Regions from separate parts of the Homo sapiens genome. Here region 2 is linked to region 1. Evidence: fine-mapped expression QTL. Tissue or cell type: monocytes after LPS. Region 1 holds a variant in brackets; the other region holds the start of a gene. All regions are shown on one strand. Distances are from middle to middle.

What was found. PIP is the estimated chance that this variant, and not a neighbour inherited with it, causes the effect.
Region 2: it holds the start of ADAMTS14, and the variant in region 1 is fine-mapped to the expression of ADAMTS14 in monocytes after LPS (Quach 2016, PIP 0.95).

Annotation. Positions count from the first base shown.
Region 1 is chr10:70,740,613-70,748,716 of GRCh38, reverse strand. It overlaps ADAMTS14 (ADAM metallopeptidase with thrombospondin type 1 motif 14), which reads right to left. Exons shown (of 22, transcript NM_080722.4): 12 at 7,555-7,730; 13 at 5,036-5,169; 14 at 4,528-4,651; 15 at 3,411-3,491. Among named protein-coding and RNA genes, the nearest start is that of TBATA, 41 kb to the left of the region's middle. RefSeq lists enhancers at 3,146-3,315, 4,847-5,650, 5,890-6,184. The variant G/A (reference allele first, on the strand shown) is at 4,931.
Region 2 is chr10:70,668,577-70,676,660 of GRCh38, reverse strand. ADAMTS14 (ADAM metallopeptidase with thrombospondin type 1 motif 14) reads right to left here and starts at 4,155. Exons shown (of 22, transcript NM_080722.4): 1 at 3,777-4,155; 2 at 1,666-2,105. The coding sequence starts at 3,858. RefSeq lists a silencer at 5,274-5,568.

The sequences.
Region 1 (8,104 bases):
GTCACTCTGCCAACTGCTTCAGTTCAATCCTTAAATACATCCTAAGGGCTGGGCTATTGTTAATACAGATGGGGAATTGGAGACTCCTAGACACACAGTGTCCTGGACACACAGTGGGCAACAGTTGGAGCTGGGCCAGAGCCCAGGCACCCAGAGAGACAGGAGCAATGTAGGGGCAGGGTGAGGGTGGGGAAGAGGGGTGGAAAAAGAAGAGCCTCGCCCCTTCCTGGGAGGCTGCTGGAGAGATGCCCCTCGCCTCCTGCCCACCCAGGCCTCTCCCTCAGGTTCCCTGATCGCTCTCAGTCCCCAGCAGCTCCAGACTGTCTAAGCTAAGGCTGGGCAGCTCCTCAGGCCAGGTGCAGCCTCCAGTTCTCCCATTGCCTTTGACTGTGCCTGCACCTCACTGTAGCAGAGCCCTGATTATGCACCCCTCATTCCAGACCGTTGGGGGTGGACCACCATAAACTCTCCACTGTCCAGACCCAGTCCCGAATCCAGGCTCCACCACTGACCTGTTCTGTATCTAACCTCTCTCTGAGCCTCAGTTTCCTTTAACTGCAAAGCGGGAAAACAATATTCATAGATGGCCATGAGGCTTACTAAACATACGCATGAAAAGTGGCAGCTCATGGCCCAGCGCATGGGAGATATTAACAGCATGAGTTCTCCTTCTCTTCCCTACACTTCCTTTCAAAGACCCCATGTCCCCAATTCCAGGAGAGTCTAATGACAATGGACAGAGCCTCTCCCTTCATCGCCAGGGCTGCCACCTGTCCTGGGCCTCTACATATCCTGTTGGGTACACACACCCCTACACGTGCATGCACGTGCATGCACACACTCACACACACATATTCACACGTTTTCACTGAAGGCCACTGTGCACCTCACACCTGTATAATCACACAACCTGTGCCAACTTCAGAGTTCAGCTCCTGGGCCGCCACTGCTTCGCTCTCCCCACCAGGCTCCCCGGAAAACTCTAACCTTTCAGGGAACTCACCCGACAAACAGGCAAGCAAGCCCGCACTCGGCCTGCCCCGGATGCTAGCAGCCTCTGCCATGACCTCCACAGAAGACTAGTTCTTCCCTGGGGATCGAAGAACTAGATTTCTGGAGACAGCAGAGGGTGGAAGGGGCTGCTAATGTTCTGAAATCATCCCCTGGGGATGCAGTGTCCGTGAGCTCCACCTCTTCTTGGAATAGATGTCCCTTCTCTCCTTGCCCCTTCCCTCCCCCGGCCCCTAATTCCAGCACATTCCCCACAGCCAGGCAGGCACAGCAGGCAGGACTTGCCTGAACCAATGTCCTCTAACCTGGGCTCGCTGTGGTAGAGTGGCATGGCTGGCAAGGGAACAGGGCTGAGAGGCAGGAGACCTGGGCCCAGACTGGCTCTGCCCATACTCCTCATGGATGAATCAGGGCATACAGAGGCCCCCAATCCACTTTGGGTTTCAGTTTCCCCTTGTGCCTATGGCCTGATGGGACAATGCCCTTTCAGATGCCTTCAAGAATAGAAGTTTAGGAGCCCACTGGAGCTGTGTTAAGGGGAGGTGCCAATGCAGATGCATTCTCCAGGAAATGCAAGTTATCCAGGAAACTTTGAAGGTATTTACAAATTGCTATTTTGATGATAATCTAAAAATATGAATGGCAGCATTTGTGTGTGATGTGAGCCTGCCAAGAGATATGTGTTTTGTTTTTCCATTTATGATGAAATTGGCACCAAGCAGTGTGACTTGGCAGACGTAATAGGTAAGAGGGGCCTCTGTGACATTTCAAGGGGACATTGTGGCCTGCACGTCCTCTGCAAAGGGGTCTGAACACAGACACCACTGCCCAGTGTGGGAGAAGCAGCCTTCTGCCCACTTGCCACCGGGACCCTGCTCTGAACCAGGCTCACAGGGTTTGAACCGAGATATAATTCACATGCCATACAACTCACTCGAATAAGGTGTACAATTCAGTGAAAAAAAAATTTTTTTTGAGACGCTCCTGCCTCAGTCCCCCAACTAGCTTAGGACTACAGGCATGCACCACCACGCCTAGCTGATTGTTTATTTTTTATTTTTGTAGAGATGGGATTTCACCATGTTCCCCAGGCTGATCTCAAACTTCTGAGCTCAAGCGATCCACCCACCTTGGCCTCCCAAAGTGTTGGGATTACAGGCGTGAGCCGCTGCGCCTGCCCTGATTTTTAAGTAGATTCAGCCATTGCCACTGTCTAATTCCAGAACATTTTCATCGCCCCAAAAAGAAACCTGATACCCATTAGCCGTCATGCCTCTTTCCTTCCCCAGCCCCTGGCAGCCACGGATCTATTCTCTCTCTGTCTGTGGATTTGCCTCTCTGGACATGTCCATTTTTTGACAGCCAATTTAGTTTCAGCAAAAACGAAACAAAACATCACTCATATTATATTAATGGCCTTAATTTAAATTTATTAACTTATTGTGGTATTCTCATTTTTAATCGAGCCTAGCTTCATAGTTAGATAACTGTTACAAGCACAAGGGTGTCACCTCATTTAGTGGCTTGGTGTTTAAGTATGATTATAATGAGAATAATGTAAGGGCCTGTGTGGTAGACTGCAGAATGCCTCTACATTCCTCCTATTCCTCTATGCATGCTGCTTTGCACAGTAACTTCACCACTTCTACCATCAAGAGCTAGTCTATGTTTCTACCCCTTAAATCTGGGCTTGTCCATGTGATTTGGACTAATGGGACGCTAGAAAACATGACACAAGCCATTCCTGAGGACTATGTGACAGATATAATGTGAATAACACTGGGTTAGCCTGTTGAGGACACAGCCCTGCCACCTCCATGACCCCAGCTGACAGCCAGTACCAACCACCAGACATGTGAGCGAGGCCATCCTAGACCAACCAGCTCCCAGAGACCTACCAGCTGAGGGCATCTGCATGACTTGGTCCAAGAAGACAAGTAGAAGAACCACCCCACAGAGCCCAGCCCAAACTGATGACCCATAGGACCGTGAGCTAAGAATTATTCTTGTTTGAAGCCACTAAGTTTTGGAGTGGTGTGTTAGGCAGCAAAAGCTGACTGATACACTCTGTGAACATGGCTTTCCTTTAACAGCCATCTATGTGCACAAGAAATTATTAACAGTAGTTGCCCTTAGGGAAGAAAACTGCCCCCAGGGTACAGGGGTAGAAAGGGGACTCTTTACTAGGTCCCCTTTGAGACCTTCTGAAATGTAAACCATGGAATGGGTTACCCATGCAGCATAAATTTAAAATAAAATGAAAAGGGGGTCTCTGCCCATTACTCCAGTTAGTACAATTCCACTTGTACTAGAATCTTGTCCTCTGGTCTCCCAGCTCCCCCAAGTCAGAGGGCAGGGCCTGGGGCCCTGCTGTCCCCTCCCAGCACCCCAGCACTCACCAATGCGGTGGGGGGACTTCTCCAGTGCCTCAATCTGGATGTGCCTGGCACCTGCTGGGATCTGCACCAGCTTGAGAGCTCCTGCCACACACAGGGATCCAGAAGTCGTGAGCATCCTAAGCTGGTGGTCCCACTGCCCAGCGTCCCCCACTCCCTCACTGGGCACCCAGGAACATCTCATTTGATCACAGAACCTCTCTGAATCTCTGTATCCTCATTTGTAAACTGAGGATGAGACCTTCTCCATGAGGGTGCTGGGAGGATCGAATGAGACATGTCCTGTAAACTCTAAGGGCCTCCGTGTGTGTGAGAGCTGCTATTACTTCCCTCTTTCCTGACCCTCTTCCTCTCCGTCTCACTTCTGCCCTTCCCCCCGTCCCTTTTTGCTCCTCTGACTCTCTCTCCCTGCTTCTTCTCACACCTTAAGCTACTTGCTACTGATGGGATTTAAATGATAAAGGCCATGAAGACTCCACATGACTGTCCTGAGCCGCCCTGGCCCTCCCGACCCAAGGCCTGGACTTTCTCAGAGCCACCAACCTTGTCCCCAACAATCAAAGGTGAGACAAAGTGTAACATCTCCCAAGGGAAAATAGGCCCCATTTATACTAAAGTGTGAAGGACTGATATCTGGTTCTTTTCCACAGCAAGTCTGGTCAGATTGGAGGTAGAGAGGAAAGTCAAGGAACTCAAAGATACCAGGAATTCAAAGCAGAAAGTGCCACAGGTTTAAAAAAAAATAAGGAAGGAGAGAGGAAAAGAAAATTATCAGTCCAGTCTTGGCTACACCTTTAGATCTGTCTGATGCCTCCCACCCACCAATAGTCCCAAGGTCCAAGGGATGGCCGAGCTCCCATCACAAAACTTTACCTAGCGGGAAAATGTCTCTTGGAGCTCCTGGGCCCCAAACTCAGGGAGGAGCTTGCCTGAAAGGTGAGGTGACTGGCTGCAGCACCTGGCTCACCAGCCTGGGCAGCCCAGGAAGGCCTGGAGATGGGCCCCAGGGCCCCTTCTCCCCACCCCAGACTGTGGCACAGTTCAAGGAGGGAGGGCCCCCTGAGGGACGGCAAGAACTCCAGTCAGCCCTCGTCATCCCCCCAGCCCCAGCCCGGCTCACCTGCCTGCTTGGAGGCCTTGCCCAGCGTCCCCTTCACAGTCCTGCAGTGGGAGTTGTCACCCCCGCAGACTCCACACTTGTCATCCGCCTTCATGGACCCCACCTCCTTGTCACAGCCGACAGGCTGAGGCCAGAGGTGAGGTCAGTGGGAGGAGGCTCCCCTGCCCCCACCGCCACCCCGGGGCTCCCATTCCCATCCCCAGGCCCTGGTCAGGAGAAGACCTCTGGCCTGGGAGATGTCCCTGGACAGGATTCTGGCACGAATTCACCGTGGGACCTGGGTGAGGTCTTACACCCGGCGTGATGAGGATTCTTGCCATCTCCTCTCCCCTCCAATGGGGCTGAGCAATAATTAGCCCCTTCCAGCACCCCAGGGCTATGCTGAGGACCAACAGGGTGTTGC[G/A]AGTGGGCCGGTGAGGCAATGCTCATCTTCCCAGGCAGGAGGGGCTACAGTGCAGCCCTCCAGTCTCCCTGTGCCGGTAGTCGGGGTGGCTGGGGGTGCACCCACCACACACTCGCCACGCGCACAGACGCTGTATGGGTCCCGGTAGCTGCAGCGTGTCCCATCGTGAACCACCTGGTTCATGAACACCACGTCCCCCGTGTCCGCCGACTGGCAGATCAGCTCACACTTCTGGGCGTCTGTAGGGAGAGGGACTATGCTGAGTCCCCAGCTGGGCTCAGAGAAAGTGGCCCAGGACAGATCAGTATGTGGTCCAGCCAGAAAGCTCCGGGGCCAGCTCTGGACAGTTGGGGGAGCACTGGGTGTGGCACGGGGGCTGAAAATCCCTGCTGTGTCACTTATTAGCCATGTGACCTTGGGTAAATGCTCTGACCTCTCCCAGCCTTTGTTCCCTATTTTTATTATCCCTAATCAGTAAAATGCCACATCGGCTTATTGAGAAAAATCAAGTGATAAAGTAATAATAAGCCAATGCTTAGTGAATGCTTACTATGTACTAGATATTTCTAAAACCTTCACATGCCCTTAAAATACAGCTTTAATGGCTTTTCATGAATTAACTCATTTAACCCTCTCAACACCTCAATGAGGTAGGTGCTAGCATTACAGAGGAGGAAATTGAGGACCAGAGAGGTTAAGGAACTTGCTCAAGTCCACACAACCACACGATAAGTGGTTCAGCCTGGATTCTAACCTTAGCAGTCTTGCCTGAGTCCTGCTCTGACCCCTACAAAACTTCACTGTGCACATGTATGACATGCGTCTTAACATGTTTGTAAACATTAGAAGGCTGCGTGAAAAAAAGGCAGAAAAGTGGTCTGTATCTGGGTTTGCAAAATGGAGCAACAGTCAGGGAGAAAGAGAGTCCTTTCTGGTCCTAACAATTAAATGTTTCCTTCTTTATGTGGGCTATAGATATCCTAAAAAGGAGGTTCCAGAGCATATATAAACACTTACTGTGCTTCTTAGAAAAAAGGAAGTTGGGGGCTTAGCTAACTTCCTGGAATTCGTCTAACAGTCCTGGGAAAAACCCAAAGTCCAGCTGCCCCACGGGCCTCCCAGCCCCTCCTCTCCCCAACGCTGTGGCTGCTGGTTTGGTTTCTGAATGGATCTGGAAGGCTTTCAAACCAAGATTCCCTCAGCCAATTACTAAGGAAACTCTTGGGCTCTGCTCTGGTCCCTGGGCTCCAGCACAGCTGGTAACTCCTTGTCTCCAGCATGAAGGACTCAAGTCTGGAGCCACAACCTCCAAGACCACCTTGGATTTCATCCACAGGAACCAGATTCCTGTAGGGACCTGGGTCTGGGGGAGCTCCAACCCAGGACAGGCAGGATCCTGACCCAGGCAGGCAGCTCTCTAGGCAGCAACGGAAGCCACAACCTCCAAGACCACCTTGGATTTCATCCACAGGAACCAGATTCCTGTAGGGACCTGGGTCTGGGGGAGCTCCAACCCAGGACAGGCAGGATCCTGACCCAGGCAGGCAGCTCTCTGGGCAGCAACGGAAGCTCTCTGGGCAGCAACAGTGCGAAGGGAGTGGTGAGCTCCCCAGAGTAGGAGGAATCCAAGCAGAGAGAAGACACCCCCTGCAAGGATGCTCTGGAAGAATCTGGCAATGACAGGCCTCTGAGGTCCCTTCCAACCTGAAGAGTCTGTCATTCTAGACCAGAGCTGAAGAGCTGACAGTTCTGGGGTGGAGCCCAGGCTCCAGGGAGGAAAGCCCGTCCTGATGGGAGCTGTCTGGGCCAAGAGTTGTGTGATGGAGAATGAGCATCTGTCCATGGAGGACCCATGGAGAGGCTGGCAGGGGAAAGCTGGAATCAGAGGATCATTGAGGGCTCTTCCAGCCGAGGCTCTGACTTGCCACGAATCCCAACCCTTCACTGGATGCTCTGCCGCTATGGAGCCATCACTGGAAACACTCAAAAATAGATGGGAACTGGCACCACTATGGTCCCCAAATTCAGACTCTTTACAGGAGTCTAGAAGTCCTGTGTATGTCCCAGGGCAGCCTAGAGAGTCGTTATGAAGATCCCACCAGATCCTATCTGCGTGCCTTCCAAAATCATCTCATCGACTCTGCTGAAACCACAACCCAATCAGTAAAACCTAAAAACACAGCGTGTAATAGGACTGAGCTCCTCAGGACACTGGTCATGCAACGGGAAGGGCGCCTGCACCTATATAATTCTTCTCCCTGCAGGTAGGGACAGAAGACGAAAGGCAGGCAACCCTAACAGCCAACACTGCTGCCGGCCTTGGCAACACCTGTGTGTGAAGTGTCCCTTCCTCAAGACACTTTCCTTGCATCTGCCAGAAAACTGTCATCATAAGTACACAAATCAGGGATGGCCTTGATGGGGATGATGACCCCAGAAGTATACCAAGAACAGGCCTACAAAAGGGTATATGGTGAGCCCGCTGACTTCAGTGTCCCTTTTGGCACCCCCACTGTCCCTCCACCTTCACTGGTGTATGTAGGGGTAGGAGGCCCTGCCTGGGCACACACAGCCCCCGCAGATGCCTAAGGACATGGAGTGGGAGGGGGGTGGGGCCCACTCACCATCGTCAGGCTCGTAGGGCACCCAGCTGTGCTTGGCATTCTGGTGCACATAGTAGGAGTTGCGCTTGGCACACTGCTGGGCCCGGAAGTCCTCGTAGGTCCCAGGGCACTCCTCGCTGTTGCAGACCTGGTACTCGAACATGGGCCCTAAGCACAGGCGGCCTCCATAGGCTGGGCTGGGACAGACACAGAGAAATGGATGACCTTGCTGGCTGGGAAGGCTGGGGAGGGCCAGGTTTCCCACACAGCCACCAGGAGCAGCTCAGCCATTCATAATAGCATGACAAGGGCCTCCACTGACATAAACCAGAGAATGGCTCCCAGGGTGGGGGCTGTGGAGCTCAGCTGAAGAGCTATCCAGATCCTTCTTCCTCCCTGACTGCTTTACCCTTCAGACATACACCACCTATTCCACGGTGAGTGTGACGGACAGATGTACAGACTGACACAGGGACTGACTAACCCTCTCCAGCTGGACTGGAAGAGAAATCCATCTTACTCATCTTTGTGGGTGCCTTCAACTGTTTTGCAGGCCCTGGCATAGAGCAGG
Region 2 (8,084 bases), 72 kb after region 1:
AGGCCTTAGGCTCCCCCAGCTGCCCTGACAATCTGCTTTCTCGAAGTCCGCTCTCAGGAACTCTTGAATCAGTTCACCTGCAGAGTTTGGTAATGATCAGATCCTGGTCCCTCCCCTGAGAGGCAGATTCTGCGCACCTGACAAGGTGCTCAGGTGATTCTAGTGCATGCTCAACTATGAGAACCAACTACCATGTAGATAAGCCCTCTCCATGAGGGCCCTACCACCTTCAATGGGATGAAAATTTATTCTGGGGAAGGCAAAAATATTACACCTTTGAATATATAAAACACAGATGGATATTCAGTGTATAAACAGATATTCAGTATATCTGTGGTATTAAAATTGCATGAGGAAAGCCAGGCACAGTGACAAGCACCTATAGCCCCAGCTCCTGGGATGCGGAGGCAGAAGGATGGCTGGAGGCCAGGAGTTCGAGGCTGCAGTGCCCTGTGTTTGTGCCTGTGAATAGCCACTGCACTCCAGCCTGGGCAACATAGTGAAAATCCACCTCTAAAAAAAAAAAAAAACCTCATCGTGGGGTAGACTGATGATTGGGAGGAAATGTCTAAAACATTTAGGGGTACATCATGATAAAAGGTGGAAAGCACTGGCCTAGACAGAGGCAGCCACGAAATCAGCAGATAAGACATCTCCTACACATGAGACAATGGTGACAAATGCTCCCCACCCTGCCAGTGAGGAAGGAACCCACAACCCCTCCCCATCTCAAATTTTCTCGCTCTCAAAGCTGAAGGGCAGAGGAGCAAGCGGGCCCCTTCTTGAGACCCATCAGCTCACATCTGATGTCTCTGGGGCAGGGAAGAGCTGCCCAACAGGACCTTGAGGCTGCTGTGCCAGCTCACAAGGGCCTGCACACTGAGGAGGAGCAGCGAGGGGAATGAGAGCCAACCCCAGGTGGGGGCGAGAAAGACAGCCCACCCCATGGCTTTCTGGTTTGCAATGTGGAGCCAACTAGCAGAGGCGCTCCCAGACTCTGGGAAGCATTGCGGAAGCAGTGGGGGTCCTAGGAAAGGGACACACAGAGCAGCCAGGAAAGAGCAGGCTGGCTCTGGGAGGAGAGACAGGGAGGAGAAGAGGAAGGACACGACGTCGCAATGTTACAAGACATAATAGCAGCCGCTAACTGTGCCCACGCCACGAGCCAGGCAGGGACAGCCCCCAGTGCACTGCCCAGTTAGGCAGGCCATATCATTAACACTCGCGGGTCAGCTCCAGGAGAGCAGAAGCCACGTCTGTCTCAGGCACCACTGTACCCCCAGCATCTAGAACAGTAAATATGTGCAAAATAAATAAGGGAAAGAACCACAGAGAGGTTAACTCATCCAAATCCTCACAGCTAGGCAGTGGCTCAGCCACACTTCCAACCCCAGTGTCTCTCTGCACTCAGAAACACCAGCCAAACAGCTTGTGATCCAGCTGGGTCCATGGAAGGCGAGGGGTGAACATCATCCCAACTTGGCCACTTCACACCTGGCAGCGCATGAACCTAGTGGCCCGCGGGGGCAGGCGGCACTCCCTCTGGAAGGCAGCACCACCCCTGCCTTGGCCCAGACTGCAAAACATGCCCATAGCAATCTCAAAACCATGTGAGCAGGGCATGGGAGGGGGAGGATGCAGCTTAATGAAAGTCTCATCCCTTACCAATCCGTCACAGTTGCTGATGGCAACAGCTGCCCCAGGCATTCCAGTGACACCTCCAGTGTACACACACTCCTGCCGTAAGGGCTGCCGGAACAGCTCCCGAAAATCCTCCTGCCACTCCACTGAGGATCCTGGCACTACCAACCTCCGATTGGGCCGCAGGCGCAAGTGCAGTTCCTTCCCGAAAACAGTGACATTGAAGTAGAGGGAGTGGCGCCCCACCCTGCCAGGCCACAGGGTCCCTCCTGGGTGCAGAGGGCTGCGAGCCACCCGGAGGTGACTGGAGTGTCGTGGTAGTGTGGGTGGCGTGTCCACTACCATGCTCCCTGCAGAGGCTGCTGCTGGGCCAGACACCACGTGGGAGAGGAAGCGTCCCCGAAAGTCTGTGCTGCAGGGCACTGTCACACCATAGTCACTGAGCTTTCCAGAGAGGTGCAGCTCTGTTGGAGGTAAACAAAGAGTCACTTCAATGCAGTCGGTTCAGAGGTAAGGGGAAGTCAGAAATCCCACGCGGGCAGGGAGGGATAGGAACTCTCAGTGTCACCCTTAGGTGGGCCCCTTAGCCTGAGTTCACCCATTTTCCATCCATTGCTTCCTGAGCTCCAGGATTCCTACACTTGGATGAAGGGTGTTCGGGTACCTTGTGGCACTCCCTGTAGCCCCCAGGTCCTTTTTAAACTTAGCAGAAGAAAGCAAATGATACCAGACAGAGCCCGGTCACTAGCAACAAGACTTCCGACCTTGGGCTCTGCCCAGAAAAGGACTAAAATTCCCCAAAAGCCAACAGGGCAAATAAAGGGAAGGGCAGATCTGCCCAAACTCCCCAGTGTGCTGAAGTCACCAGCCCAGGCTGGGGTAGTGCCCTCCTCCCCAAACTTCCAAGAACGCAGCTGGCAAAACAAACACACCTAGAAACCCAGGGGACCATGGGCACGTGTCAAGGAGAAGGTGGGGCTGCAGAGGGGAGCGGTTCTCTATTTTTCCAAGGTTAGAAAGAAAACTTTTTACAGGAGGACAGTGGCCGCTGAGATCTCTGTATGGCCGAGCCCCAAGCTGGATAAATATAGATCTTCAAAAATAAAAGGATATACAGGGGGTGACCTGCCCACTTGGGCTGAATTAACTGTGAGGTCATGGCCCCATGCTCCAGGCCACATGCCAGCAGGCCCATCCTCACGCAGCTCTCCTTGAGCCCAGCCAGGCTGGGCAGGAATGACAGCTCCCTGGCTTCCAGGCCTGGTGATTCATGAATGCGAGTTTGGGAGGAATTTTCATTTCCACACAGCTCTACCTCTCGTCTCCCCAGTTCACGTCACTGATGAAACATAGAAAGTGGTGTTTCCTGAAAATCCCCCATGCCCACAGCTCTAGTTTCATCCCCATTATAGCAGAGGACCCCTAAGACTGCTGCAAGAGGGGACCCACTCTGGCACATGAACAAGGCTCACAAACAAGGAGGGACCCTGCCTGGAAATGACCGGTGACTCCTCCCCATGTTCAGAGCCACCAGGAGGGTACCCCATGCTGCAGGGCGGGAGTGGAGTGTATCTGGTCTGTATGCAAGAGACCTGTGTCCACAGCGTTTGACAGTGCTACGTTGGGGGCAGTGGAAGGATGTGTGTTTCTGTGCAGGAGCGTGAGTGCCCCGCATGCTCTGCTGTAGGAGGCAATCACCTGTTAGCCTTATGCTGGGTATGTAACAGCCACACACAGACACACACACACACACACCCCTTGCACCCATGCTCACACAAGTTGGAGACAGAAAAGACATTGAAAGAGAAAGACACACAGGACAGAGAAACAGATTGGGGAAGAGGGGAAAGAAGAAACACAGAGAGACAAAGAGACAGATGCGCTGCTCCCGAGAAGAGACTCGATGCTCCCAAATTCTCTCCTGGGGTCTCTGTCTACTTCTAGTACCAGAAAGGGAGAGAAATCACGGGACAGTGCCGTGGCACAGTGGAAGAAAAGACAGCAAATCAGCCCAGAGTGTGCATACTGCCTCCCACCCGCGGGAACCCTGCCCGGGTGGCTGGGGCAACCTTGGGCCACCCTGACCGCGTGCACCCCGGACCCCACGGGCCCCCGCGCGCCCAACCCGCACGCACCTGGGGTCCGGCTGCCCGCGGCGGCGCAGAGCGCACAGTGCAAAGGCAGCAGGTAGGACAGCAGCGCGCGGAGTGGAGCCATGTGGCCGCGCTGGGACGCGGGCTGGGCAAGCGCCCGATCCCCAAGTCCCAGGCTGAGGGCGGCGAGGCTAGGGTGCGCCCCGGGCTGTCGGAGCACCGGCTGGCTGCCGCCGCTGCCGCCTCAGCCGCCTCCCCGCCTAGCTGCTTCCCTCCCGCCTGCTCCGGGTCCCCTGCGCGGCGCCGCCGCCTGGACCGCTGGCTCCGGGCGCGCGAGGCTGCCGGCTGGAGAGCGGGGCCACTGACGCGCCAGCGCACCCGGTGCCAACTGCCGGCTGGTCGGTCAGCCCGCCCGCGCAGTGACGCTCCGGGACTCCGCGGGAGCCGGGCGACGGGGCGGCGGGACGGGCCGGGGGTGGGCACACTGGGCGGGGCGGGGCCGGGCGCGGGTCGGAGCTGGGGCGCCGGGCGCCCGGGGGCGGGGCGCGCGGCTGGGGAGTGCAGCTGCCTGCGGCCGGGGATCGGAAGTGCCACGCGGAGACAGAGCAGGGGTTCCTGGCGCACGGACCGATTGTCCCCTCAGACGCCTGGGATCCCCGGAGTGGTGGCCCAAAGCCGCTTTCTATGGCTGCTCCGCCCCCTTTCTTGGCCGCAGGGCCTGCTCTCTGTTTCTGTTCCAGAGCCAGGAGCCCAAGGGGTGTCCGGCTGCATTTGGGAGTGTGGTGGACAGTGAACCTCCCGGTAGAGGGAGACTCCCTCTTTCTTTCACTATGGTCTTGATGCCCTCACTAACCATCGACCCCTTGGATCTACCCATTTTCCAGACTCCAGCCCAGGGTGCACGACTGACCTGTGTCCTAGCCAAGAGCAGGGCTGAGCCGGTGAGGAGAGAGCCCTGGCTTCAGAGTCAGACAGCCCTGATTGAAATCCTAGCTCTGAGCCTCAGTTGTCTTATCTGTGAAATGGGTGTTAACTACAGCACATAATAGATGCTCAATAAGTGATAACTGCCCTCCACTTCCATCCCTGACACCAGTAGCAACTGTGGCATCCCAAGGTGGAAAGAACCAAGAGTCTGAGAGATGAGCACTTGATGCTAGTCTTGCAATGGTGTTGAGACCAGGTCAGGAGTCAGTACAAACAACCCAACAGAAGATCCATGCTCTTGCTTTACTCTGTAAATATGTAACTAATAACTTGCAAATAAACTATATTTCAAGCAATCCAGGGGTGGGAGTTGTGGAAAGGAGATTTTTTTGTAATAACCATGGAATAAAGAATCTTGGAAATGATGCCAAGGTTTTGGAGGACCAGTGCATTTAAGAAGCAGGTTCAGAAAGCTAAAGTATATTATATTCCAAGCATTCCAAGCTACATCAGAGCATCCAGTTATTTGGAAATGCCACAACCAAATTGATCTATATTAAATTCAGGAAGAATAGAGTTCCTCTTTCTCCTCTTTCTGGTCTTTTAAGATGTGTGTTGGCTGCGTGCAGTGGCTCACGCCTATAGTCCCAACACTTTGGGAGGCTGAGGCGGAAGGGTTGCTTTAGCCTGAGAGGCTGAAGCTGCAGTGAGCTGAGCTTCAGCTCACACCACTGTACCCAGCCTGGGTGACAGAGCAATACCCTGTCTCAAAAAAAAAAAAAAATGATGTGCAAAGTCAAGGTCCAGACAGGATTCTGTGTGTGAGGGATGACAGAGCAAGAAAGTTAGAGGGTGTGTGTGTGTGTGTGTGTGTGTGTGTGTGTGTGTGTGAGAGAGAGAGAGAGAGAGAGAGGAAAGAGAGAGAGAGATAGGAAAGAGAGAGAGAGAAAGAGAGAGAGAGAGAAAGAGAGAGAGAGAGAGAAGGCTGGGAGATGACCAGGCTGGAGCTTCACAGCTCTGGCCCTCTGCAAACCCAAGCCCACCAAATGATCTCTGGATAAAATGGCTTCCCTTCTCAGGGTCTCAGTTTTCCAAGCTGCAGAGTGGGAACCCTGCGGGACAGAAGGAAAAAGTCATGGCGTAAGGATTGCCCCTTTTCTGCTGTGGGGCCATCTCAGAAAGACTCCCCTAGAAAACTCAGGGGCCCCAGCTCCATTCCACCCCCTTGTTCCTGCCTCAAGGAAAGCAAGTCAAGAGGAGCAGGTCACAGCTGGGGCCCCAGCAGCCTGCTTCGCTGGAGTGGGCTGCGGCCTTCCCTGGAGCCAGCCTTGGCAAGCAGAGAGCAAAACCTCTCCCCGTTTCTTTACCCCCGCCCCCTTCCCTGGGGCTACAATGATTGCTTTTATCGGCAAGTATTGTGTGTCCAAGCTCTCTTCCATGGAGGAAGGCTTTGTTAGGAAAAGGGGACATGGGGGCCTAGCTCAGAGTCTGGGCCAGAAGGTGGGGAGAGGGCAAGGTGGCCCCAGATTTGGAGGTGAATGGGGCCAAAGGAAGAAATCCCCAGGTGTAAGCTGGGGACCCTCCTAGGAAGTCAAGGTCTGGGTTTCCCAGTGTCTTCCTTGAGTCTTCGCGCAGGAGAGAATGTCTTAGGTGTTTCTCCCAACACCCAACACAACAGTTTCAGTCTAAGGCCCTGGGGGAGAGGGATGCAGAAAGTCCGTGTTGGCTGCATGAAGCCAGCAAGCAATTGAGAAACCTGACATGGGCAAGAGAAAGTCTGAAAACCAGGTAAGGAAAGGGTAGAGAAATGTGCTCTAAATGAACATGCAAGGTCGCCAGGGGGGACCCCAGGGACTCTGGGGACTCTGGGAAGGAGAAGCTTAGAGGGAGATTTCACTGCCGTGGATCCAAGCTGAGGCTTCCACAGGGGAGACAGAGAGGAAGCAGTGTTCCTGGTTGGGAATGGCACGAGCATGGGCAGGAGGGGGCGGCCTGCCATGAGCCTCCCAGGCAGGAGGAGAAAAGGCTGGACTAGCTAGAGCCCATGGAAGGCTCCTGTGACAGGTAGGCCAGAAAGACAAAGTGGAGGTGTCTATCCCCAAAAGGTGACTGTGGCAAGAGTTTGAAACAGATGTAATGAGTGGGCTGGGGCTTGGGCAACGGCCCAGGATTTGACCCTGAGGAGCAAGGTGGTCCCAGCCTCCACCCACGTTCCTTTGAGCATAAACAAAAATGCAGAGATTTGGAGATAGAGGGGTTGAGAGGCAATCTCCAGTCCTGTGCCCCACTCCATTTTATAGTTAGGTAAACTGAGGTCTGGAGAGGAAAGCAGACTTGCCTCTGGTCACACAGCTAGTTTAGAGGAGGGCCAGTTCCCCTGGCTTCAGAAAAGCACAACCTCTGCTGAGCGCCAGCTCTCTTCCCCTCTTGCTCCATCTTCCAAGATAAAGATGAGGAGGTTCAAGGTTGAGACAAAATATCCCCACCCCAGCAGGAGTCCCAGATGCCCCCACAAGGAAGTAAGAGTGTCAGCTTGTGATAGGTCTCTGCAGCAAGAGGCCAACAGCTCCACGAGAGTGACCCAGAGGCAGGGGGTCCAGCAGGCAGCTATCATTTGTTGAGAACCAGCTGCTGTGCTAAGTGTTTACCTGTTTTATCCACACCTGGAGGAGATGAGTACTCTGAAACACAGGAAGAGGGTCCTTGTCTTCCAACCCATGGTGTGACAAGTGACCAGTAGGGCTCTGAAATGCTCTGGAGAAGAGGAGTTCCACCCTAGCTCACTGAAAGCCATCACCATCCACCCTGGATAGCCAGTTAGGAAGTCAGACAGCTGGACCACCCTAGTCACCTCTCTCACCCACCACATCAATCCCCTCCAAGTCCTGTGGAGTTGACTCCAAAGGATATTCCAAATACAGTAACTTCTTTCCATTTCAAATGCAACCCCATCTCCCAGCAGGCCACCAGCAGCCCTCTGTGGACACTGCTGTAGGTTTGTCCTAACAGATAACCCCACTCTTCTCCGGGCCCCGGAATCTCTCCTCCAACTACACCCAGAGATGTTTGAGACATCACATGGCCCTCTCTGCTATTAAACCTCCAAAGGCTCTGTTCCTCTTGGAACAAAGATCAGACTCCCTGTGCCCACCTTCCTGCCTCTGTTACGGACAAAGCTGGTCCTCTCAAAAAAATGAGGTATTATTCTCCGTTTGGTGTCACAAAGTCAGTACGCAAAACTGAGAGTGAGCATCAAGCAGTGCAGGCTTTATTTAATGGCCATGGAATTGAGAAGTGGGAGCTTGGCTCACGAATCAACTGTCAGCAGGTTCCATGATGCCCCACAAGCCGCAAAACCAGCAAGTTTTTATTAGTGATTTTCAAAAAGGGAGGGAGTGTATGAATAGGGTGTGAGTCACAGAG